7 linked regions of the Homo sapiens genome follow. The protein of the gene in region 1 purifies or fractionates together with the protein of each later gene. This does not show direct contact. Each region holds a gene or a part of one and is shown in the gene's direction. Other genes may lie near its edges. The genes, in order: MTHFD1L, HMGCL, ANGEL1, MTARC2, AKAP1, PAPOLA and PAPOLB.

What was found.
Region 2: the proteins of MTHFD1L (region 1) and HMGCL purify together in Homo sapiens (co-immunoprecipitation; one large-scale study listed by IntAct). This does not show direct contact.
Region 3: the proteins of MTHFD1L (region 1) and ANGEL1 purify together in Homo sapiens (affinity purification with mass spectrometry; one large-scale study listed by BioGRID and IntAct). This does not show direct contact.
Region 4: the proteins of MTHFD1L (region 1) and MTARC2 purify together in Homo sapiens (affinity purification with mass spectrometry; one large-scale study listed by BioGRID and IntAct). This does not show direct contact.
Region 5: the proteins of MTHFD1L (region 1) and AKAP1 purify together in Homo sapiens (affinity purification with mass spectrometry; one large-scale study listed by BioGRID and IntAct). This does not show direct contact.
Region 6: the proteins of MTHFD1L (region 1) and PAPOLA fractionate together in Homo sapiens (co-fractionation; one large-scale study listed by BioGRID). This does not show direct contact.
Region 7: the proteins of MTHFD1L (region 1) and PAPOLB fractionate together in Homo sapiens (co-fractionation; one large-scale study listed by BioGRID). This does not show direct contact.

What each region holds. Positions count from the first base shown.
Region 1 is NC_000006.12:150,872,202-150,875,701, forward strand, and holds part of MTHFD1L (monofunctional C1-tetrahydrofolate synthase, mitochondrial isoform 2 precursor), read left to right. Parts: intron 1-3,500. UniProt on the Homo sapiens protein: May provide the missing metabolic reaction required to link the mitochondria and the cytoplasm in the mammalian model of one-carbon folate metabolism complementing thus the enzymatic activities of MTHFD2.
Region 2 is NC_000001.11:23,811,930-23,815,429, reverse strand, and holds part of HMGCL (hydroxymethylglutaryl-CoA lyase, mitochondrial isoform 1 precursor), read left to right. Parts: intron 1-1,091; coding exon 1,092-1,240; intron 1,241-3,500. UniProt on the Homo sapiens protein: Mitochondrial 3-hydroxy-3-methylglutaryl-CoA lyase that catalyzes a cation-dependent cleavage of (S)-3-hydroxy-3-methylglutaryl-CoA into acetyl-CoA and acetoacetate, a key step in ketogenesis. Terminal step in leucine catabolism.
Region 3 is NC_000014.9:76,810,083-76,814,170, reverse strand, and holds the start of ANGEL1 (protein angel homolog 1), read left to right. Parts: upstream 1-1,288; 5' UTR 1,289-1,343; coding exon 1,344-1,407; intron 1,408-4,088.
Region 4 is NC_000001.11:220,754,822-220,758,321, forward strand, and holds part of MTARC2 (mitochondrial amidoxime reducing component 2 isoform a precursor), read left to right. Parts: intron 1-125; coding exon 126-299; intron 300-309; exon of another isoform or gene 310-405; intron 406-3,500. UniProt on the Homo sapiens protein: Catalyzes the reduction of N-oxygenated molecules, acting as a counterpart of cytochrome P450 and flavin-containing monooxygenases in metabolic cycles.
Region 5 is NC_000017.11:57,109,246-57,112,745, forward strand, and holds part of AKAP1 (A-kinase anchor protein 1, mitochondrial precursor), read left to right. Parts: intron 1-779; coding exon 780-913; intron 914-2,552; coding exon 2,553-2,679; intron 2,680-3,245; coding exon 3,246-3,373; intron 3,374-3,500.
Region 6 is NC_000014.9:96,508,882-96,512,381, forward strand, and holds part of PAPOLA (poly(A) polymerase alpha), read left to right. Parts: intron 1-3,500. UniProt on the Homo sapiens protein: Polymerase that creates the 3'-poly(A) tail of mRNA's. Also required for the endoribonucleolytic cleavage reaction at some polyadenylation sites.
Region 7 is NC_000007.14:4,859,231-4,863,404, reverse strand, and holds the start of PAPOLB (poly(A) polymerase beta), read left to right. Parts: upstream 1-1,374; 5' UTR 1,375-1,594; coding exon 1,595-3,508; 3' UTR 3,509-4,174.

The sequences.
Region 1 (3,500 bases):
TGTATCCACGGGAGTAGCACTTTTAAATTTCTTCAATAGCTTTTCCTTTGCATTCACAGCTTGGCTAACTGTTTGGCTCAAGAGGCCTAGCTTTTGACCTATCTTGGCTTTCAATACACCCTCCTCACTAAGTTTAATTATTTCTCGGTTTTTATTTAAAGTGAGAGACCTGCAACTCTTCACTTGAACACTTAGAGGCCACTGTAGTTACTAATTGTCCTAATTTCAATATTGTTGTTTCTCAGGGAATAGGGAAGCCAGAGGAGAGGGAGAGAGAAGGGGGAACAGCCAGTCCAGTGAAGCAGTGAGAACACACACCATCATGAACCATCATGGCCACGGTTTGGCCAACACAATTACAACAGTAACATCAAAGATCGTCAATCACACATCACCAGAACAAACATACTAAAAATGAAAAAGTTTGAAATATTGTAAGAATTATCAAAATGTGACACAAATTGAGCAGATGCCATTGGAAAAATGACTCCCATAGACTTAAAACACAGGTTGCCACAAACTTTCAATTTGTAGAAAAACACAGTATCTGTAAATTGCAGTAAAGCAAAGCACAAAAAATGATGTATGCCTGTATTTTTTTTTCTATCCACATCCACCCCCCAACTTTTTTTTTTTTTTTGGTAGAGACCAGGTCTTGCTATCTTGCCCAGGCTGGCCTTGAACTCCTGAGCTCAAGTGATCCTCTCACCTCAGCCTCCCAAAGTGCTGGGATTACAGGCATGAGCCACTGCGCCCAGCCCCCATCCCCAACTATTTTAAAAGTCTAATTACTTTTTGACGATTGCCGACTTACCTATAGAAGTGTTCCTTTCAGCCCGGCGAGGTGGCTCACCCCTGTAATTCCAGCACTTTGGGAGGCCTAGGTGGGCGGATCACGAGGTCAAGAGATCGAGACCACCCTGGCCAACTTGGTGAAATCCTGTCTCTACTAAAAATACAAAAATTAGTGGGACGTGGTGGCATGCACCAGTAGTCCCAGCTACTCAGGAGACTGAGGCAGGAGAATCGCTTGAACCTGGGAGATGGAGGTTGCAGTGAGCCGAGATCGTGCCACTGCCCTCCAGCCTGGAAACAAAGTGAGACTCCGTCTCAAAAAAATAAAAAGAAGTGTTCCTTTCATCAACTATGAATGGATCAAGACTATGAATGTTTCTGAGAAAATTATTGCTGTTAGTAAGAATGTTTTTAGTGTTTAAGGGTAGCTTTGGGGCACAGAAAAAAACAAACGTACATTTATAAGAAAAAGGGGAAAGAGCCACTGTAGTATACCTGTTTTACAGATGAGGAATCTGAGACTCTTAGAGACTTGTCCACGCTAGTAAATGAAATGCCCAGTACCAATCCTGGGCCGTATTTCCACTTAGTGTCTCAGAATTACCTGGACTCTGTTAAAAATGCACATTTCTGGGCTCCACTGAGACACGTTGAATCAGACTTTCTAGGGCTGGAACTGTTATTTTTTTTGAGACAGAGTCTCGCTCTGTCACCCAGCTGGAGTGCAGTGGCATGATTTTGGCTCACTGCAGCCTCTGCCTCCTGGGTTCAAGTGATTCTCCTGCCTCAGCCTCCTGAGTAGCTCTGGGATTACAGGTGTGCACCACCATGCCTGGCTAATTTTTGTATTTTTACTAGAGATGGGGTTTCACCATGTTGGCCAGGATGGTCTCAAACTCCTGACCTCAAGTGATCCATTTCACCTTGGCCTCCCGAAGTACTGGGATTATAGGTGTGAGCCACTGCACCTGGCCTGGAACCTTTACTTTTACCAAACTCTCCAGTGATCCTTATACCATGAACCGCTTGGGTCCCACACTCCGGTGCTTTCCTGGACCCAGACAAAAATAAGAACCCAGCATAGCCAAATTAACAGTCACGACAGGCTGGAAAGAGTGCGGTATATGGGCCTCAGTCACCCATTATTGGATGGATGGATTTTAGTGCTTATTTATAAGGTGATTTGTAAACTTTCCCATATGGTCACATTTATTCAGCACAATAATACAATTAATTCCCTGGGAATGAAGTAGCTTTATCCCAAGTGTTTCCAAACAAAACTAACTGAAATGTTCCCAGGTTATAGACAGTTGCCTGCACCCAGTCCATCTGTTCCGGCCCAGCTGGCAGTAGAAAGACTGGTCCTGGTTGTGAATCTGAGCAGCTCTCTCCCCTAAAGCCCCGCCTGGGAACTGCAGTGCCTCTGGTTCCATTTGTCAGCTGTGTCTCTCTGAAAACTGGGGAAAGCTTCCCGATGCCTTTCTGCTCTTGGCAGTGTACCGTTGATGGCATTGGCTGGAACTTCTTCACCCCGCATTTTTGTTAGGTGCAGTGCAAGACCCTGTCGGAGACTGAAAACAAAATGTAAAGGTGGTCTTAGCACTGAAGCCTGGGGGCTCCTGTGGCTGCGCCTTTGGTCTATTGTGAGAGGGGGAAAAGCCAGCTCCCAGTGCTCATGTGCTGCTGAGAACATATCATAGGGTGGTGGCGAAGGTAGCCTCTGCAGTCACTCATCCCAGAAGGTTCCATAAAGAGCTGAGCTCCTAACACTTTTTTTTTTTTTTGAGACGGAGTCTTGCTGTGTTGCCCAGGCTGGAGTGCGGTGGCACAATCTCGGCTCACTGCAACCTCTGCCTCCCAGGTTCAAGAGATTCTCCCGAGTAGCTCAGATTATAGGCGCCTGCCACCACACCCAGCTAATTTTTGTATTTCTGGTAGAGACGGGGTTTCACCATATTGGCCACGGTGGTCTTGAACTCCTGACCTTGTGATCCACCCGCCTCAGCTTCCCAAAGTGCTGGGATTACAGGCGTGAGCCACCGCTCCTGGACTTTTTTTTTTTTTCTTTTTTTAAAAAGAAATTGAGTCTTGCTCTGCCACCCAGGCTGGAGTGCAGTGGTGCAGTCATAGCTTACTACAGCCTCAAACTCATGGGCTCAAGCGGTCCTCCAGCTTCAGCCTCCCAAGTATCTGGGACTACAGTCACGTGCCATCACGCCCAGCTAAATTGTTTATAGAGATGGGATCTCGTTATGTTACCCAGGCTGGTCTCAAACTCCTGGTCTCAAGCAGTCCTACCGCCTTGGCCTCTCAAAGTGCTGGGACTACAGGTGCATGCCACCATGCCAGGCCTTCTACCACTTTTACCTAGGCCTGCTCACCCCAGGCTGGCACCTCCCTCAGAGGTGGGAGGTGAAGGTGGCTGCTGCTGGGCATTTAGGAGGTACAGGTGCAGACTATGTTGTGGATTCTCAGAGGACTGAGAAGCTCTCTGTCTCTCTCTCTAGGAGGCTTTGATAGTGTTATCAAAGTGGGTCTCCAGTGTTTCTGGAACTTTCCTCCCCTTCCTTCCTTACCTAATTCCTTCTTTAAATTCCAGGACCTGGAATTTATCCTGTCTCGACACTTCTTGTCCAACAGTGAGCCCCCTGTCTTCACCCCCCTAATCCCCTGTCTTCACATCCCTCTTCCCACTTTATTTGCTT
Region 2 (3,500 bases), on another chromosome or scaffold:
GAGGCCAGAAGTCCCAAATCAAGGTGTCAGCAGGATTGGTTCCTTCTGAGGCCTCTGGGAGAATCTGTCCTATGCCTCTCTGCTGGGGTCTGGTGGTGGCCAGCAGTCCTTGGCATTGCCTGGCTTGTAGATGCATCTCTCCAGTCTTTGCCTCCGTTTTCCCAGGGCCACCTTTTCTGTGTCTCTGTGTCTTCACTTGGCCATCTTTTGTTTTTGTTTTTTTTAGACAGAGTCTTGCTCTGTCGCCCAGGCTGGAGTACAGTGGCATGATCTCGGCTCACTGCAAGCTCCACCTCCCAGGTTCAAGTGATTCTCCCACCTCAGCCTCCCGAGTAGCTGGGACTACAGGCGTGTGCCACCACGACCGGCTAATTTTTTGTATTTTTAGTAGAGATGGGGTTTCACTGTGTTAGCCAGGATGGTCTCGATCTCCTGACCTCATGATCTGCCCGCCTCGGCCTCCCAAAGTGCTGTGATTACAAGCGTGAGCCACTGCGCCCGGCTGGCCATCTTTTTTTAAGGTCACCAGTCGTATGGGATTAGGGGCCCACCCTATTCCAGTATGGCTTCATCTTAACTAATGATATCTGCAATGACGCTGTTTCCAAATAAGGTCACATTCTGAGGTGCTGGGTTTTAATCCTTCAACATATATTTTTAGGAGGACACAATTCAACCCATAACATTCACATAACATAAAATTTACCTTAAGAGAAATTTTTTGCTACTCTGTGTCAGTGTTCTTTAAAGAGAAAAGTGCTGGCCGGGCATGATGGCTGACACCTGTAATCTCAGCACTTTGGGAGGCTGAGGTGGGTGGATCACAAGGTCAGGAGTTCGAAACCAGCCTGACCAACATGGTGAAACGCTGTCTCTACTAAAAATACAAAAATTAGCCGGGCGTGGTGGTGGGCTCCTGTAATCCCAGCTACTCAGGAGGCTGAGGCAGGAGAATCGCTTGAACCCAGGAGGTGGAGGTTGCAGTGAGCCGAGATCATGCCACTGCACTCCAGCCTGGGCAACAAAGCAAGACTCCATCTCAAACAAAAAAAGAGAAAAGTGCTGAAAGGAGTTCACCTGGATGTTGGCAGGTTGCTGCTGGAGCCAAGGAAGTAGTCATCTTTGGAGCTGCCTCAGAGCTCTTCACCAAGAAGAACATCAATTGTTCCATAGAGGAGAGTTTTCAGAGGTTTGACGCAATCCTGAAGGCAGCGCAGTCAGCCAATATTTCTGTGCGGGGGTGAGTCAGAGCACATTGGTATCCTTTCCTCTGTACCGTTCTGGAATGGGGCTAGACTCTGACTCAAGTGGTCCTCCTGCCACAAACTTCTTATCCTGGGTGGGGGCAGCCTGAGCTCCACACCTAGACATCTTTTCCCAAATAAGTGTGGTCAGAAGAAATCCTAGGAAGTACTTTCTCTCAAACCTGAATTTTGGGTCAGTTTACCAGCTAGCCATGATAGCATGCGCCTGTAGTCCTAGCAACTTGGGAGACTGAGGCAGAGGATGGCTTGAGACCAGGAGTTTGAGGCTGCAGTGAGCCATGATAGCACCACTGCTATCATGCTAAAGGAATCTAGCAGGACAGGACACTAACGGGTTTGTGGAGGTCAGTTGAGTCCTGGCTTTATCACTAGCTCTTCACACATCCCTGGAGAATTACCTAGGCTTCTATGTTTCCAACATCACATCTCTAATATCAGTGGTTCCAGGCATTGTGTGTGTATTATCTATAATAATTGAAACCTCACAATAGCCCAGCAGGGAGTAGGTTATCCTCACTTTATAAATTACAAAACCGAGGCCCAGGAAGGGCGAATACTCTACTGTAAGGTCACACTGCTGTGCAAATTGCAGCCAGAGGCCGGGCATGGTGGCTCACACCTGTAATCCCAGCACTTTGGGAGGACAAGGCAGGTGGATCACCTGAGGTCAAGAGTTCAAGACCAGCCTGGCCGACATGGTGAAACCCCATCTCTACTAAAAATACAAAAATTAGCTGGGCGTGGTAGTGGATAGAAACCCCGTCTTTACTAAAAATACAAAAATTAGCTGTAATTCCATCTACTTGGGAGGCTGAGGCAGGAGAATCACTTGAATCTGGGAGGCGGAGGTTGTGGTGAGCCGAGATCACACCACTGTACTCCGGCCTGGGTGACAGAGCAAAACTCCATCTCAAAAAAAAAAAAAAAAAAAAAAAAACATTGCAGCCAGAATGATCGTTGAAAAGTGCACATCTGGGCTGAACATGGTGGCTCATGCCTGTAATCCCAGCACTTTGGGAGGCCGAGGCGGGCAGATCACCTGAGGTAAGGAGTTTGAAACCAGCCTGGCCAACATGGGGAAACCCCATCTCTACTAAAAATACAAAAATTAGCCGGGCGTAGTGGCATGCACCTGTAATCCCAGCTACTCAGGAGGCTGAGGCGGGAGAATCACTTGAACCCAGGAGGCAGAGGTTGCAGTGAGCCAAGATCACGCCACTGCACTCCAGCCTAGGTGACAGAGTGAGACTCTGTCTCAAAAACAAAAACCAAAAAAACCCCACAAAAGTGCACATCTGATCACATCCCTCCTGGTTAAAAAGCTTTCAGTGACTAATCAAGTGCAGACTTTTTAATGAGGTTTACAAACCCTGCATGATTTGGTCCCGGCTCTTTTCTGTAGCCGTACCGTTCAAGTTCCCTTCTGGCCCCTGCTTCCTCTTCATGGTACACTCCAGCCCAACTGGAACTTCTTTCTGTTTGTCACATGCCTCCACTCTTGCCTCTGGGCCTTTGCACGTGCTCTCTCTAGACTCAGAACAACCTTCCTTGGGAGGCCAAGGTGGGCAGGTTGCTTCAGCCCAGGAGTTTGTGACTGGCTTGGGCCTGGGCAACATGGTGAAACCCCAGCTCTACAAAAAAAAAGCCAGGTGTGGTTGCATGTGCCTGTAGTCCCAGCTACTCAGGAGGCTAAGGTGGGAAGATCACCTGAGCCTGGGAGGTCCAAGCTGAAGTGAGCCAAAATCATGCCACTGCACACCAGCATGGGTGAAAGAGTAAGACTCTGTCTCCAAAAAATAAAGAACACTTCCTCCACATCATGCTTCTCGGGGATAACTCCTGCTCATCCTTCAGGTCTTCTTGTGGGAGTCAGTTCCTCTGAGAAGCTGCTCCAGTCCTTCAGCTGGAGTTAGTGCCCTTCTCTGGGACCCCATGGTGTCGGGACATCCTCTAAATGTAGCACTTAGCTGCTTGTTAAATTCCCTCCCTGCCCCACCCCACTAGACCGTGCACTCCATGAGGGCAAAGCCCACATCTCTCCCAGTCCCTGGGGTGCTCCACTCTCCCAGCTTGGGGCCTAGCCACAGTGGGCACTCAGTCACTGACGGGCAGGTGGATGAATGGGGAAGCAGGTGCTCCAGTAACATTGGCCCAACTCCCAGATCTGTGTCTTTCTAAGCATCTCTCTTACCTTTTTCTTGCTCAGCAGTGGTTGGAGAATAAGTGGGAGCATCA
Region 3 (4,088 bases), on another chromosome or scaffold:
TTAGTGACATATGCTTTGTTCAACCAGTCAGTAAAGGCTTATGTGGTGGCTAGTAGTGCTAGCGAATGCAGATTCGGCCGCTTGCAAAACCAACGAGCAAGGTCGTGGTATGGTAGAAGGAGACTGACTTTATTATAAACCAAAGCTAGCAGTGGGGAAAAACGATCCAGGCTTTTGCTTTAATGGAGCTGCTTCACATTTCCAAGCAAAATGCGAGGCTTTAAGAAGTTTTGGCATGGAGGGTATGCAAGGGGTGAGGCAGTGCAGGTCTTCATGACGAGTTCTGATGACTTGTCTTGAGTTACTGCCCATCTGGTGAATGGGCTGGCATCATCTCGGGCTGGGCTGAGTTATAAATTAACTGTAGCCTTGAATCAATCTCCTGGTGGAGATTTCCACAGATGCCTATATTGTTTCAAGATTTAGTCTCTGGAACTTTTAAGCGAACATACAATTAGATATGCTAACAGTGTGTATGGGGGGTGCTGGGGTGTCGGGGGGTGCCTAGTGGTTAACTGAACAAAAATAAAGAAATAGAAGTATATAACAAGAATATAACTTCCAAGCTGGGTACTTGGTTACAATAGGTGCTTGGATTGTATTAGAGATACCTCAAAGTGAGCAAACAACCAGCCAGAACTGGTCCCTGGCCTTGTGGAAGTTTCTCTCTTCTGTCTCTCTCCTCTCTCCCTTCTCTCTCTCCTCTCTTTGTCCTCTCTCCTTTCTTTCTTGACTTCCTTACCAATGGGAAACCCTGTTTTTCTAGATTAGGGAAAAGAAGGCCCGTTTAGAAAGTAGGGAAGGAGACAAAGTCTTACTTCCTGAAGCAAGGTAGGACTCAATTTGTGACCTAGAATCTGAGACAGGGAAGTAGAGGCAGGAAAACGGGGGAAATGGGGGAATAACTCGCTTCCTTTCTGGGTCGAGAAGGGCTAGAAGTCAAGGTTCAGTGGAGCCTTAGAGAAAGTCCAGCTCTTCATTTTACAGGTGAGGAAACTGAGGGGCGGAGAGGCTATAGTGTGGTAACAAGGTGGACACCTAGTCAGCTGCAGAAGTGGGAATAAACTGTGGCCTTTGAATAACACTATGGGGCCTCCAGTGAGGCGCTCAATTTTAATTCGGGACGCCTGGGTGGCAGCCGGGTGCTAGGGGTGGCTAGTTGCCATGGGAACCGGCTCCTCCCACTTCCTGCGTGCGCACCCGTAGACCTGCGCTCCCAATAAAGTTGTTGTTGAAGCGCGGCGGCGGCACCACGTGGGCCGGACCGGGCCGGGGGCGGGGCCGAGCTGAGGGAGGACCTGCTGGCTGCAGTGAGGAGCGGAGGCGGGCGCGGGCGGCCGGCCATGATCGCGTCGTGCTTGTGTTACCTGCTGCTGCCGGCCACGCGCCTCTTCCGCGCCCTCTCAGGTACCGGCCAGGCGTACCGACAGACAGGAGCCCGGCCAGGGCTCGCCTCTGCGGGGCTCCGCGGGCCTGGGGCGGCGTGCGGTTGGCCGGGCCTCACGACTACCGTGCCCCGGGCAGTGCCGAGGTGTAGGGAGGCGGTCCTGAGCCCCTGCCCCGCGGGCCCCTCCTGACCCCACGAGGCCTGGACCTGGCCGACGTCCCTCGTGGGCGGCCCCTCCTCCCGCCTGTTGTCAGATGGCGTCCGGCCGCGGTTAAGGTGGAGAGGAGCTGTGGACGGGCAGGGCCCTTTCCTGGCCCTGGGGGTGCAGAGAAATTGTGGGGTCGGCCAAGTCAGCACCCCGGCGGGTCGGGAAGGGGTAGTAGCTCGGACCTAGGCGAGTGCCCAAATTCTCAGCGGGCGAGGCGGGTCGGCTCTGGGAGGTTTATGGCCGAAGTACTGGACGCACCGATCTTCCCCAGGTTAACTTCACACTCGCCTTTCACTGCCACCTGGCAGCTCTCGCTCACCGGTGTCTTTGGTTGAAAAACGGACGTTCAATCAGAGACACATTTAGATCTCAGCTTTGGAGCATTCCTGCCCCCACTCCCGGCGGTTTAGAGGGAGATGTGCTGGGGTGGGGGCAATGCCCAGTCGATACCTCAAAGAGGGGGTGTTTATTTCGTTATTGTTTCATAATTTGTCTGCATTCTCTATTTCTGGGCTTTGAAATTACGGAGGGTTTTATGCGACCATCAGTTTCTGAGATCCCATGGAACTCGCAGACTTTTTGCCTTTAATTTATGGGACAGGACCAAGAAGTACTTAGGAATGAGGGCTCCAATTGTATATTCTGTGGTTTTCCTTTGTGGAACTTTACACAATTGGTACGCAATGTGTGTGTCATTGATAATATATATTTCATATAGAAATATTTTAAATTTTACTGTGTATCTGCCATTAGAATGCAAACTTCAGGAGCGCAGGGCCACGTCCATTTTGTTCGCTGTATCTCTGGTGTTAACACATTGCTTGGTATACAGTAGGCACTCAGTGAATTCAGGAATGTCTTGTGTGTCCATACTTCTGAGGAATGTGGGAAACTCCACAGAAGTAATTGTTTCCAGAGAACTAAACATATTCTTTTAACTATGTTGCTGTTTTTCCTGGAGCTCTTCTAATGCCTTAGTGATACAGTATACTAGTCCAGAGGTTTCCAGACCAGTAGAGTTCTAGGGATCTCAGAGGAGGGCCCCCCCCGCCCCCCCACCTACACATTACAGTAGTCCCACTTATATTTACTTGGCATATTTGGTTTCCAGATAAGATTTTTAAAAAACAAAAGCATTCTGCTGCTGAAAATCCACCACCACCACCACCAAAAGACATCTACCAAAATTGAAAGCTAGTAACTTCGTGCATATGAACCAAAGAACCTCTGCCATCTGGTATACACAGAGGATATTTCAAGGGGCAGATAATCAGGAAGTCCTTGAGGCTAAAGCTCAACGACCCAGCCCATACATAGGTTTAGAGCAGGGTTTCTCAATCTCAGCACTGTTGACGTTTTGGACCGGATCATTTGGTGTGGGTCTGTCCTGTGAATTGTTGGAAGTTCAGCAGCGTCTCTGTCCTCTAACCACTAGATGCCAGTAGCAATGCTGCAGTTGTGACAACAACAGTGTCTCTGAACGTTGCTAAATGTCTTCCGAGGGCAAAATCACCGTGGTTAAAACCATTGTTTAGAAGGACATAAATATACATAGACCCCAAACAAGATATTTGAACCGTCTTTCAATATTTGAGCCACTTTTAAGGTTTCTTCCCTTTAAAAAAAAATTGCCAATAAAATGAGTCTAGTGATTGAGGGCCAGCATCGTGCATGTTACTCGTCCTGTGCTGTAAATAAATGGTTGAGTGTGTGAGTGTAGGAGTTGTTTGCTCTCACCAAAATACTGTGCTCAGAGTTTGGGGGCTCTAATTTTAGAGTTTTTCCCACTTTCTTTCTTGCCTGTTGGCTGTCATTGGTGGCTGCAGTATCAGAGAGATGTCAGCTGTCTCTTACTGTCGATTGTTGGCACCTTGTAATTTATAGCCTCTGATGTGTTGTGGAATGGGAAAGCAGATAATGAAGTTTGTGAAGATTTTATTACAATAAGTAGCTTTGAGAAAAGGCTTAAGGGCCCTTGCTAAGATGTAAATTGTATAGATTTTTGAGACTGTCTACTTTAGGACTTTTTCTTTTGGAATACATTAATAGATTAGGGAATTTATACAGCTAGAAAAGCTCAGAGATTATCTAGTTCAAACTTGTCTCTATTTTTTTAAATTTAAAATTTATTTTTTTCTTTTCTTTTCTTTTTTTTTTTGAGATGAGGTCTCACTTTGTCTCCCAGGCGGGAGTGCAGAAGGGCAGTCATAGCTCACTGCAGCGTCAACCTGGGCTCAAGCAATCCTCTCATTTCAGCCTCCCAAGTAGCTAGGACCATGGGCATGTGCCACCGTACTTGGCTAATTTTTAATTTTTTGTAGAGATGAAGTTTCGTTATGTTGCCCAGGCTGGTCTCTAACTCCTGGCCTCAAGTGATCCTGCTGCCTCTGTCTCTGCCTCCCAAAGTGCTGGGAGCCACCACGCCTGGCCTCTTGTCCCCATTTTACAGTCAAGAGTAACTTCATCTGACTAGGGGCATTGTTCAAGGTCAGT
Region 4 (3,500 bases), on another chromosome or scaffold:
GGAAAATGATTGTTAGGTCCCAAGACGGGGTGGGTGGAGAGTTCTGAGGAAGTAGAAAGCTGGAGGGAAGCTGTTGGGAGGTGGAAGAGGATTTTCTGAGTGTGCCCTGGTTTGTTTCTCTGCAGGTTTTGGCTGGTGATTAAGGAAGATGGACACATGGTCACTGCCCGACAGGAGCCTCGCCTCGTGCTCATCTCCATCATTTATGAGAATAACTGCCTGATCTTCAGGGCTCCAGACATGGACCAGCTGGTTTTGCCTAGCAAGCAGCCTTCCTCAAACAAACTCCACAACTGCAGGTGTTCCGCTTGGGGGCATCCACAGAACTGCAACAGGCTTGGTTTCTCTTCAGGCTCCTCCTTGCATTCTGTCTTGCTATAGTTTCTACAGTAGAGGATGACATTGGTAAAGGAAACATTTAAGAGAAGTGCAGTTTGAGTTGGGATTGGGCATGAGTGGATGATGCAGGGTATTGTTTTCAGGGTACCTAGGATTTGTTTTAATCAGGTATGGTTAGACACGCAGACATAGAAATGACTGTCCTGAAAAAAGAAGATGTTATACCAACAGATTCTCTAGAAACTGGAGGCACGCTACGCCACGCAAGGCCAAGTGGGGGAGTACCAGGGTGGGTCAGGAGGCAGAGGGAGCAGGGGGAACATGTGGGCAAGGGCTTTTATTGTGGTTTCCACAGGAAAGGAGAAGCAAGGCAGGGGCGGCAGGCTTAGGGCTGGCTAGTTTGAACAATTTCAGCAGGCTCTGGGTCACAGGTTGTCTGGTACTTGGCTCTAGGGTTGACTAGGGCATGGGACTAGTGGCCCGGCATGTAAGCACCAAATAAAGGAGGTGACTGGGAGTGCAGACTCTGGATGGGTTGGTGTTCCTATTACAGGCACACTTGCAGGTCATCAGTCTATTATTTCTAGGAATTGGTCAGCCCTGGAAGAAGCAGTTTCTTCAGTGTCAACAAGGCTCCAAGATGTCAAAGCGTAAAACATGCAGAAAATTAAAAGCAGGATTACTACAAGTATAAAGGTGGTACAATGTGCTCATCTTTAGGGCTTTTCTCCTTTCATTCAAATCTTCATTCAGAATTGTCAACTCTCCAACCAGGCAGACAAGGGAGTTAGTGGAGACTTTAGCAGCTGTATCTCAGGGCTGGGTGAGAAGGATGCTGGAGCTTCCAGAGCTTTTCAAGTTGACTCTGCGGCCTCTGAAGTGTGTGGTTGAGATGAAGACATATTCCTTGGGTGTAAGGGATTTCCACTTCTGGCCAAAGACACACCTCAGGCCTTGGCTTCCTTTTGGCCTATGGGACTTCTGTTGGGTTGTCAAGTTCCGTGGTTTGCTGGGGTCTTGTCCTTCCACATTAAGAAGACTTAGATGCTTGTCATGGGATGAACTGGATCCCTTGTCACCAACTGAGCTTGTTAAGTGTGTGGAAGTTGGTGTTGTCCCAGGGCTCAGAGGGGAGCCTCAGATTACTCCGTGAACTCTCATCTTACGCTTTTTCAAGCAAAGCGTCTAAGCTGAAATCCACAACTCATGGTTCCCAATTTTCAAAAGTCTGAAGCAATAATTCACTGAATTCAGTATTTCAGGTAATTATCTTAGCAAGCCCATGAGGGGGTCATTAATTCCACTTTACAAACGAGGAAACCACGTCTTAGATCACTGCCACGAAAACACAGAGCTGGGATTTGAACCCACTTCCCTCCTAAGGCTTTTGCCTTTAACGTGTTTGTGTAGGGAGAAGAAAAGCTTTTCCATAAATGACAGGTTTTGAGCCCATCAGTTCATTGAAGAGGAAGTGTGTAGCCATCTCGGCTTAATTGGAAGACATGTGAAGGTGATGGGTAAATACGTAGCTGACATGTGTCACATGAGTAATATAGGTGTTGCCCTGTAGACTCACTGTGTTGCCAACAGTGAGCAAGTTTTTCCCCCAAGGCTCTTTACCAGCTAAATAGGCAGAAATCTAGGGGGACACTCACCTTCCTGGATGGAAAGAGGGAAAGAGGAAGACCTTGCAGGTGAGTTGCCTGGGTCTGAAAAAGACAGCAATTGCAGCCTATTCTTTTTTATTTATTTATTTTTTGAGACGGAGTTTTGCTCTTGTTGCCCAGCCTGGAGTGCAATGGCACGATCTTGGCTCACTGCAACCTCCACCTCCCAGGTTCAAGCGATTCTCCTGCCCCAGCCTCCTGAGTAGCTGGGATTAGAGGCATGTGCCATGACGCCCAGCTAATTTTGTATTTTTAGTAGAAATGGGGTTTCACCATGTTGGCCAGGCTGGTTTCGAACTCCTGACCTCAGGTGATCCACCTGCCTTGGCCTCCCAGACTTCTGGGATTGCAGGCATGAGCCACCGTGCTCAGCCTGAAGCCTCTTCTTATGTAATTCTGTTCCATGCATGAATTGTAGATCTGGATGAGGTGGGAATAGAGAGCCTGGAACCCTGGCAGTTTGGTGAAAATGATTGAGAGCTGTGCATTTGGATTGATGCAGAGGTGTAGTCAGCGCACTGCCCTCTCTAGCTGGTTAGACATGCTGTAACTAGTTCAGCCTGTATTTATAAGCTATTTTTAATGGATTCGTTGCCAAGGGAACTGCTAAAAACTGAAGAAATAACATAGATAGTGTGTTTAGCTAGTGCCAGCTGCTGTGACAAAATACCATAGTCTGGGTGGCTTAAACAACTGACATTTATTTCTCATAGTTTGGGAGGATGGGAAGTCTAAGATCGAGGTGCTGGTAGATTGGTGAGGTCCCTTTTCAGGGCTGTAGATGGCCACTTCTCGTTATGTCCTCACATGACCTTCCCTGGTGCCTGCATGAAGAGAGAAAGCAATCTTGTGTTTCTTCCTCTTATAAGGGTGCCAATCCCAGCATGAGGGCTCCACCTCATCTAACCCTAATTACCTCCCATAGGCCCCACATTGGGGGTGAGGGTGTCAACAAAGGAATTCTGGGGAGACACAAACATTTAGCCCCTAACAGATGGTAAGCGACAGAGTGATTACCACAGCCAGCCCACCAGAGCCCAGAATCAAATAACATAAACCAACAACCTCAAGTTAGTAAAAAGAAAAGTCCCTTCACAGACATTTGGACAAGGCTGAAGTGTTATGAATTTTATATTATTCTACACTTATTTTATTTTATTATTATTATTATTTTTGAGATGGAGTCTCGCTCTGTCACCCGGGCTGGAGTGCAGTGGCGCGATCTCAACTCGCTGTAACCTCTGCCTCCTGGGTTCAAGTGATTCTCCTGCCTCAGCCTCCTGAGTAGCTGGGACTACAGGCGCACGCCACCACGCCCAGCTAATTTTTGTATTTTTAGCAGAGACGGGATTTCACCATGTTGGCTACCATGGTCTCGATCTCCTGACCTTGTGATCCACCCGCCTCGGCTTCCCAAAGTGCAGGGATTACAGGCATGAGCCACCACGCCCGGCCACTTATTTTTTTTAAACTTTCACTGTTAGTGTTTTGAAT
Region 5 (3,500 bases), on another chromosome or scaffold:
TTTGTGACGGTCCCTTTGGCACGCTCTTGAGTGAGAGTGGAACAGCCCAGGTCGGGAGCAGAGTCTGTTCCCATTGGGTTTTCTTGGGCATGAGCTTTGGCTCAGTCTTTTGACCAAGGGAGTATTTGAGCCAGAAGAGTGTTCAGAGTTGCATGAATCAGGCCTAAGCAAAGGGAAAGGAGACTCTCCTTTTTTAGTCCACATATGGCAGAGGAACGAGCGGGTCCCCGCTAGGTATAAGAATGGGGCCCTCAGGCAGGCCAGTGAGGACTTTGTCTAGCTCTGCTGGGCTGAAGGCCAGTACCTATGACCCTGGGACTGGGCCCTGGGGACAGGAGACTGACCCTTGGTCTGAGGGGGTAGGATAGTTGGAAGGGTGTCAAGGTGTTTGTGGTCCATCGGTCTGGCTCTCAGGACCATGTGGACCTCAAGCGTGTCTCCTCCCCCGCCCTCTGGGCTCCCCTTCCCTGGGCGCAGTCTGTCTCTTCCAAGTTCACCACTTGTGTCTCTGCTCCAGCAGCTGTGGCTGGGTGCGGCTGCCAATTAAGCAAGTGGGACTGTAAGTGACAGGCTAAAATTAGGTGTATCGACACCCCCAGTTCTCCTTTCATTGGGGTTGTTCTGAGCCTTCTAGACTGTAAGTTGACAGTCACCTGCCAAGCTTGAGGAGCGGGTGTGGGGCAGGGCCTCCTGGGAATGTGAGTTTGGGAAGTTCTTGGTTACTGGCTGCTCTGAGTGGGGTCTGTGTGTGTGCGTGCCTGCTGCTTCTTCCCCTGCAGGTTCTGACAGGAACAGCATGGATTCCGTGGATAGCTGTTGCAGTCTCAAGAAGACTGAGAGCTTCCAAAATGCCCAGGCAGGCTCCAACCCTAAGAAGGTCGACCTCATCATCTGGGAGATCGAGGTGCCAAAGGTAGGGGCGGAGTCCCCCAGGCTGGTTCTGTGGTAAGCCCAAAGCTCCCTGGGGCCAGGGCCATTAGACCTCAGGGAGGGAGGGGGCTGGGAGAGGGACAGTAAACCAGAAGGAGCCCTGGGTCAGCCAAAGGCCGCAGGGAAAGGACACGCTACACTTTGCCAAGGCTCAGAGAGCTTCCTGCAACATGGAATTCCTCCAGCTGCCTCCAGGAGCATCTTATTCTTGTACTTCTCAAACTCGCAGGCCTGTGTGTCTCCCTTGGGGGTGGTTCTTGCATATTCTGGGGCTCAGATCTATTTGGAAAAAAAACACCAAGGCCGTGGGGGCCAGCCAGAATCCCTTCACTGAGCTCTGCTCAAGTGCTCCAAGTGTATTTTATAATTGAGCAAAGCATAAATCCATATTTTAGAGAACTTGAAAAGTATAGAAATACATGCAGAAAATAAAAATCAGCTCTAATCCTACCCTTGAGAGTGACTGTGAAAGACTTTTATTTCCTTCTCATCTTGCACCCTGTGGTTTTTAAACAAAACTGAGATTATGTCGCTTTAATTAATACTTTAAATATTTAACAATTTAATTTTCGTGTGTTATTCTTTGAAAATGTAACTGTAACTGCATTATTCACTGTGTGGATGTCAGTTTACTTCATCAGTCCCCCATTCCTGAGTGCTTAAGTGGTTTCGAGCTTCTTGCTATTAGAACTTACAACATATTAGCTTGATCTTGATGTTTATCTCTGGGGCTCAGAAATAATTTGTCAGACCGCATTCTCCCAGGGCCCTGGGCTCTGTGCTCAGGTGGAGACTTGGCTTGGTCTGAACTCTGGGTCAGAGTGGCTGTTTTGACCCTGGGTTGCGAGGTCTCTTGGTGGTTTCCTCCCTGGGGGGCCCTGTTATCCGTCCTGCCTGCTTTTCCTTCAGTGGTTACAAAGGGCATGAAGAGAAAGGCTGTGCCTGAGGATGGACCATGTCCCCAGTAGCTCCTCCGGGAGGGGGTCGTTGGCGGTTGTGTGGGAGCCCATCTTACGTAAGGGCTAAGTTTGGCTGCTTCTATCTGCCTTGAACTCTGGCGCACTGGGCACTTCTGCATGCCTCCTGCTCTGCAGGCTTCAGCCTGCTGTCACTTGGCAGCGGGAGCCCAGGGTTCTTAGACCTTCATTTTCAAATCGAGCCCCTTTATCTTTGGATCTGAGTAGACTTGAGGGAGAGGGGCACGAGAAATCGAGAAACTGTGTGCTGGTGAAACTTCTCAGCATGGCTTTTAGAGGAGAAGATGCTGCTGCCTTTGCAGCTTTCCGGGTCTGGGCCACATTGTTGGGATGAAATGGGAACTGCTTGGTCCTGGAGCCAGACTGCCTGGTTCGACTTCCTGGTTAGCAGCTGTGTGACCTTAAGGTAGTTACTTAGCCTCTCTGGGCTTGTTTCCCCATATACAGAATGGTGATAAAGTTATCTGTGTTTCACAGGTACTATGAGTAAATGTAAGTGCTTAGAATAGTCCTGGAAAATAAATGCTGACATGGTAACAGCTAATATGTTTGAGCATGATCTTGTGTAAAACAGAAGTAGGTCTTTGGGTGTCCAGGGAATTGGTTTCCCTTTAACCCTCTCATCTCTTTTTGTCTTTCTGGAAGCACTTAGTCGGTCGGCTAATTGGCAAGCAGGGGCGCTATGTGAGTTTTCTGAAGCAAACATCTGGTGCCAAGATCTACATTTCAACCCTGCCTTACACCCAGAGCGTCCAGATCTGCCACATAGAAGGTCAGTAACATCTGCTGCTTGTATTGCCTCTTACCTGAAATATTAAATAGAAGTGAATAGCATCTGAGTTTCAATTGCTATCTTTTTGGAATAGGAAACCCTGCTTCTCATCCCAGGGAAGGGAGCATTAGGTATCTTCCCTGCAGCCTTTTCCCCATTTCAGGTGCCTGCGGGAGACTCAGGTCCCTCCCTACTCTGATCTTTGGCCAGGAGAAGTGTGGGTGCTTGGTTGGGCGGGGCCTGGGTCCTGGGTTCATAGTGCCCACCACCCCATAAAGGCTTCTCTCAAAGCAGAAGTGCCCTGTGTGCAATTCCCCCTTGGCATTTTCACAGCTGCCTGCCTCTTCTGTTGCATTGAAAGCATGGATCATAATGGCAGAGGTATCATTTGAAAGGCTTAGATGCCTTTCTTCCTAAAGCAGAGCTTAAGTGTTTTGTTACCTCAAAGATGCACTTGAACTCTATGCAAAGTCCAGTGGAGTGGGGTCTGTGGCTGTGTTTTTGTGAGTGTGGGTGTGAGTTTCCTCTTACAGTGATTGTATGTCCTGCCCCCATCCGCTATTTAGGCTCTCAACATCATGTAGACAAAGCGCTGAACTTGATTGGGAAGAAGTTCAAAGAGCTGAACCTCACCAATATCTACGCTCCCCCATTGCCTTCACTGGCACTGCCTTCTCTGCCGATGACATCCTGGGTGAGCGTGCTACTGGGTGATCCGGACTTCTTGCCACTTTCCCCCAAACCTACCCCAAACAAGAAACTCCCCAGACCTCAGGCTAAGAAGGCCAAGTGCACATGAGTGCCTGCGCCCTCTCTTCTCT
Region 6 (3,500 bases), on another chromosome or scaffold:
GGCTCAAAAGAATACCTGACCAAGGTCATAAAGGTACTAAATTGTAGATTGGGGCTTAAATCAGCTCTGGATTCTGTGTTGCATTGTCATTCCAGTACACTATACCATCTCCTGTGGACACTGTAGGGAACCATGTGTGGTTAGCTCAGTTGGAGTCTTTATTTATTTTTGAGACAGGAACTCACTGTTGCCCAGGCTGGAATGCAGTGGTGTGATCATGGGTCACTGCAGGCTTGACCTCCCAGGCTCAAGGGATCCTCCCACCTCAGCCTCCCAAGTATCTGGGACTACAGGCACGCACCACCATACGTGGCCAATTTTTGTATTTTTTACTGTGACAGGGTTTTGCCACGTTGCCCAGGCTGCTCTCAAACTCCCGGGCTCAAGCAATCCCACCTTGGCCTCCCAAATTGCCGAGATTACAGGTGGCTCATGCCACCATGCCTGGCCAGTTGGAATCTCTGTATAGTTTCAAGTAGAATTAATTTTCAAGCTCAATTTTTTTTGTGTGTATAACATGTAAATCTCAAAGTATTTACATAATAAAAATGTATACAAAAGTATATAAACAAAAGTAACATATAGTGTATACTTGTAGTATACACAGAATGTAACATACTATAGAACCTGAGATCTTGTGCATTGCTTAATGATTGGATATATTCTGTAAAAATGTGTTATTTTTCAGATTTTATTGTGGGAACAGTGTACTTAACACAAACCTAAATGGTATAGCCTGCTATGCACCTAGGCCTATGCACCAATGATATGGCCTGTTGCTCCTAGGCTATAAACCTGTGGCAGCATGTTACTGTACCGAATACTGTAGGCACTTGTAACACATTAGGAAGCATTTGTGTATCTAAATGTATGTAAACACAAAAGGAATAGTAAAAATACGGTATTATGCTGTTATGGGACCACTGTTATATGTGTGGTCTGTCATTGACTGAAGAATTCTGTTAACGTGGCACACGACTACTTTCAGTGGCTTTATTTGCATATATATTCTTATTTAAAGCCATGCACAGATTTGCCACTTAGACGCCGCTTTGTTGTGGCCAGTACCTTTTGTGGGAGTTGCTTTTTTTTTTTTTTTTTTTTAATCTTTGGATTGTATGTAGGCCTGCTGAACTGTATAGCAATCTCATTTGTGGAAACCTAAGGATTTGGGAAAGAAAAAATAAAGGCATTCTGTTAGATTTCTTTCTTCCTCTTTTGTTACAGAATTATTTTTCAAATTTTTATTCCCTCTATATTTTGTCCAGAAATTGGATTCTTGGATTTTACGGCAGTTTTTATAATTTTGAGGTTGATCAAGAATAGTGTTTGTCATTTTGATCATTAGAAACATTTAAATTACATTTCCTGAAATTAGTGTCTGTAATACTATGACTTACTATAATCTTGACTATTTTCTGATACATTTTCACACTCTTTCGTACTTTTTCAGGTCCTGTTTCATACTTTATTAAATTTACATTTCTTTCATTTTCAAGTTGTACTTGGCAAGTTGATGTAGCAGTGTACAATTTGGCTTTTTTTTTTTTTTTTAAGTTTCTCCTAGCCATATGAGAGAGAGGGACACAACACACACGCGCGCGTGCGCTTGTGCGCAAAGGGGCAGTTGGAAGTACCCTTTGGAAGTGAGGAAAAATAACTTGGCCATTGTAGTAATTGAACAGCAAGTACCCTTTCTCTGCATAAGCAACCTTGAATTTTCAGTTTGGCCTTGGGCTTTATCATACATACTTTATTCCCCTTGAGCATAAACAAACTATTAACATCATCTTTGAGCCTCTGCTGCTGCTTTACTAAATATTGGCTGGATGGCCCACCTGCAGTACGTTTTTAAGAATATAGTGGGATCTAAATATTTTTAGTACCACTTACACAGAACACCTTACGGTGGGCCAGTTAACCATCGTTTTAATTTCTTAGCAAATAGATTATTTTGGCGATAATCTTGCCTGTAAGCTACTATCATGCCGTATACCTTGTGAAAAAGGAGATTGTATTATTTTGGCTAATAATTAATATTTAATGCACATTGAGATACTTTAGAGAGATCCCTTGTATCTTTTCTGTTCATGTCCTTTGAATGAGCACATTAAGGTTAAGACCTTTAAACAGCAAATTCTACTGTGATGAATTGTTACTTTAAATAAGTTAACTGTAGTTTATCTGATTGGTTTCAAAGAAGAATATTTAGCAAGTTTGGCTTTCAGTTTTAACTCTATCATGCAAATAATAAAGTGTTTTCTGTTAAGTAGTAGCTATAAATTGGGGCAGTTGACTCTGTTAATATCATGGGCCACAACTTGTTCCAAATGCCTAATATCACTAGGTGGGGATTAATCAGTAGTGCCTGATGAGTTTTGTATAAATTGAGACACAGGCGGGCTGTGGTGGCTCATGCCCGTAATCCCAGCACTTTGGGAGGTCAAGGTGGGAGGATTGCTTGAGCCCAGGCGTTCGACACCAGCCTGGGCAACATAGTGAGATCCTGACTCTATTAAAAAAAATTAAATTGAGATGCAAAGTACTTAAACATTAACTATTTAAGGAAAACACCAATGGAAATATGATGTTCTGTCCTTTTGTGTGTTAGTCGTCTGCCTAGATTACGCCTCTCCTTTCCGATCATTTACTGTGTACACCTTCTGGCATAGTCATGATTTTATCTTTGTTTCTTTAATGGTTTTTTTCCCAAACTTCTACTTTGCACTTGTTGTTTAAGGATCTGAATCCCAGACTAAATTTGAGATTGTCATTGAAAACAGAGACTACCTTAAGCATCTTTGTATTTCTGATTTTATTTAGCATTGTCTTTTATGCATATTTAGGAATTTGGTACATTTCAACCTCATAAATACTGTACTTTCTGACAAAAGGTAGATGAGAAAAAAGTGCTTTTAGGAAAATTGAGTTGATGTTTAATAACTTGGCCGCCCTAGCAGCTTCCTGGAGCAATAAATAAAGCAATATTTGCTTTGGATTTACTATTTCTAGCCACAGAGTATTGCACTAAAAAGCTATTTTAAAAATCTTTGTTTATTTCACAAAATAGTGTTTTAATTAGCATAAACTGAGTTTTTAGCTAATAACCAAAAGCTAATTATTGTTTTAATTTGAAGATTTGTTTGGTGCCCCTTGCTGCCATTATAGGGGGTTATTTTAGCCTCCTTGCTATAACTATTCTAATTTAATGGTGAACGGTAGAATTAGTTGACTTTCAACTTTTGCAAGATTATTAATATTTACTTTAAATAATTTAACATGTTGAAACAAGTTTATAAAATATAAGGTAAAATTTTACGGTCTCAATTCTGCTTGATTGTGTTTCTATGAATGTGTTATGGACATAATATACAAATAGTTAAAAAAAAAACTGGGTGTCATGGTCCATGCCTGTAATCTGAGCTATAAGGGAGGATCGCCTGAGCTCAAGAGTTTAGATCAGCCTGGGCAACAGAGCAAGACACCATCTCTAAAATTAA
Region 7 (4,174 bases), on another chromosome or scaffold:
ACTCTGAGTTCTTGGATAACAACAAACTATACAGTTTCTCAAGAGCATTCGGAATTAGAATAATTAGTTATAGAGTACTAAATAAGTATGTTTAACACGTTTAAAGAAATAAAAGGTAGGGGGAAAAACATGAAAGAACAGAATGCCATCTAAAAGGCAGAGAAGCTTGGAAAAGAACAAAATAGTGAAATATAAGTATTTAAGTGGATATTTCAATGATGCTTAAACAGCAGACTAAATACAACTGAAGAGAGGACTTGGAGGTAATCTGGCATCACCCAGAAAGACACACGGCTTAAGAGACATGGAGGACAGAGTGAGAAGGTTGACAACGTGTCTAGATGAAGAGAATCAGGAGACAAGTGGGAGAACATATTCCCAGGAAGTGCCCAAGAAGCTTCTGGAGATCATAAAAAGCATGACTTCTGATTCGGGAATCATAGTGTATCCTGGGTAAGATTATATTTTTTATTTTTTATTTTTATTTTTAATTTTATTTTTTTTTTTGAGACAGAGTTTCACTCTTGTTGCCCAGGCTGGAGTGCAATGGTGTGATCTTGGCTCACCGCAACCTCTGCCTCTCAGGTTCAAGCAATTCTCCTGCCTCAGCCTCCCGAGTAGCTGGGATTACAGGCATGCACCACCACGCCCGGCTAATTTTGTATTTTTAGTAGTGACGGGGTTTCTCCATGTTGAGGCTGGTCTCCAACTCCTGACCTCAGGTGATCTGCCCGCCTCGGCCTCCCATAGTGCTGGGATTACAGGCGTGAGCCACTGCGCCCAGCCTGGGTAAGATTATTAAAGAGAAATCTATGCCTGGACACACAGTGGTGGGATCACAGGGCACTAGGGACAGACACTTTTATAGCTGCCATAAGAAAAGACAGACGAGCAGTAGTTCACCTAGCTGCGGAATTCTCAACGGGAACCAGAGGACAGCAGTATCGCGCCCTTAAAGCATGGCCAGAACACAAATGTCGACCTCGAAATGCTGCCCCAGCTAAACCAATGTCCAGCAACGGCCCAAGAAACAAGACAGAAGCTGCTTTCCACCGCGGGTTCCCACCACGAAGGGGTCTTTGGACTTCCAAAGGGTGCACGCTAGGGTGAAGAGTGCTGAGGGTGCCCCCAAAAAGGATGCACATCTGCGATGTCAAGGGACTTGGAGAGCAAAGAATTAGATGGGTAAAGTTGGGCAAATATGTAAAATAGTGGCAATAAAGGGTTGAGTTTGGCCGGTCATCAACAACGTGAATCCTGCCCACCCCCATGTATAGCCCCCCGCGCAGCGGTAGGAGCCCCAGCCCAGAACGCTGTGGCTCCCGTGAGCCCTCGCGCTGGCGGCGGGTGCGCAGGCGCCCGCGCGTGTACGGTAGGTTCTGGAACGCAGCCGCTGAGGGGTCTGGCGCCATGTTGGGGCTGAGGGGAAGGAGGAGAAGCTCCTGAAGCGGCGGGCGCGCAGCGGGAGTGGGAGTGGGGTCGGACCAGGGCAGCTAGAAGCCCTGCCCTTCCGCCTCAGCGGATCATGACCCGGGCGGCGGCCGCGAAGGTCGCGGTGGTGGGGGACGTGCCCTGGCGGGGCGGGCGCTGAAAGATGATGCCGTTTCCGGTGACAACCCAGGGACCACCGCAGCCGGCGCCGCCGCCGAATCGCTACGGCGTCTCCTCGCCTATCAGTCTAGCGGTCCCCAAGGAGACGGACTGCCTCCTCACCCAGAGGCTAATAGAAACCCTCAGGCCCTTCGGGGTCTTCGAAGAGGAAGAGGAACTGCAGCGCAGGATTTTAGTTTTGGAAAAATTAAATAATCTGGTAAAGGAATGGATACGCGAAATCAGTGAAAGCAAGAGTCTTCCCCAGTCTGTAATTGAAAACGTTGGAGGAAAGATTTTTACGTTTGGCTCTTACAGATTAGGAGTACATACGAAAGGCGCAGATATTGACGCCTTGTGCGTTGCACCAAGTCATGTGGATCGAAGCGACTTTTTCACCTCATTCTATGCTAAACTGAAACTACAGGAGGAAGTGAAAGATTTAAGGGCTGTCGAGGAGGCATTTGTGCCAGTTATCAAACTGTGTTTTGATGGGATAGAGATTGATATTTTATTTGCAAGATTAGCACTACAGACTATTCCAGAAGATTTGGACTTAAGAGATGACAGTCTACTTAAAAATTTAGACATTAGATGCATAAGAAGCCTTAATGGTTGCCGGGTAACCGATGAAATTTTACATCTAGTGCCAAACATTGACAACTTCAGGCTGACTCTGAGAGCCATCAAACTGTGGGCCAAGTGCCACAATATCTATTCCAATATATTAGGTTTCCTCGGAGGTGTTTCCTGGGCCATGCTAGTAGCAAGAACTTGTCAGCTTTATCCAAATGCAGTAGCGTCAACTCTTGTACGGAAATTCTTCTTGGTATTTTCAGAATGGGAATGGCCAAACCCAGTGTTACTGAAGGAGCCTGAAGAACGGAATCTTAATTTGCCTGTATGGGACCCAAGAGTAAATCCCAGTGATAGGTACCATCTTATGCCTATCATCACACCAGCATACCCACAGCAGAACTCCACATACAACGTGTCTATTTCAACCAGGATGGTCATGATTGAGGAGTTTAAACAGGGGCTTGCTATCACACACGAGATTTTGCTAAGTAAGGCAGAGTGGTCCAAACTCTTTGAAGCTCCAAGCTTCTTTCAAAAGTACAAGCATTATATTGTACTTCTGGCAAGTGCATCAACAGAAAAACAACATTTAGAATGGGTGGGCTTGGTGGAATCAAAGATCCGAATCCTGGTTGGGAGCTTGGAGAAGAATGAATTTATTACACTGGCACATGTGAATCCACAGTCATTTCCAGCACCCAAAGAAAATCCTGATATGGAAGAATTTCGTACAATGTGGGTGATTGGGTTAGGGCTAAAAAAGCCAGATAATTCTGAAATTCTCAGCATTGATCTCACCTATGATATCCAGTCTTTCACAGATACTGTTTATAGGCAAGCAGTGAATAGTAAGATGTTTGAGATGGGTATGAAAATTACTGCAATGCATTTAAGAAGAAAGGAACTTCACCAGCTGCTGCCTCATCATGTGCTTCAGGACAAGAAAGCACACTCAACAGAAGGTAGAAGATTGACAGATTTGAACGACAGCAGCTTTGACTTGTCTGCAGGCTGTGAAAACAGCATGTCTGTGCCTTCATCTACTAGCACTATGAAGACAGGCCCATTGATTAGCAGTTCTCAGGGTAGAAACAGTCCTGCCTTGGCTGTAATGACAGCATCTGTGGCTAACATACAGGCTACTGAATTTTCCTTGCAACAGGTGAATACCAATGAAAGTTCAGGGGTTGCATTAAACGAAAGTATTCCTCACGCTGTCTCTCAGCCTGCCATTTCTCCATCACCAAAGGCCATGGTCGCCAGAGTTGTTTCTTCAACATGTCTCATAAGCCATCCAGACCTTCAGGAAACTCAGCAACAAACATATCTAATCCTATAGTTGGAGTCTAGAGGATATTCTTGCCTCATAAAGAAGAAAGGACCAAGAAAACCAAAACGGAAGAGGAGAAACTCAATACAAAGACAAGTACAACTCCATTAGAAAAATTCAGACAGCATCTTCTCTATTGGCCTCTCAGGGAACATCAGTATAGATCTTTCCGGTATCCCTGTTCTCCCTGCAAATCCAATTCCTGTTATCAAGAATTCAGTAAAACAGGTTGAATGGTTAAAAACAACCTCAAGGGTCCATGAACAATATCTGCCAACTGAACCTGTTGTCTTCAAATACTAAGGAAGGAGAATGAGGGGTACGGGACTAGATATGACTTGAAATAGATTGAGGCTCATTTGGTAACTTCCTTTACTGAGCCAGTCTTGATCAGAAGTCCACATTAGTATGTGACAGCTAGAGGTACTGTTATTAATGTATCAGCAACAGTTACATTAACTATTTCAAAGGACTACTGCCCTTAAAATGAAAAAACCTTTCAGCTATGTTTGTACCCGTGACTGACATCTGGACTGGATTTATGCTTGATGCATTGTTGGGAAAATATGCAATACAAACTGGTATCAGAATTCCTTATACTGATGAGGCACTTTATATTTTTTATTAGAAAGTAGAACTAATTTTAGATTTTTCAAATTGGTGAATTTTATTTTT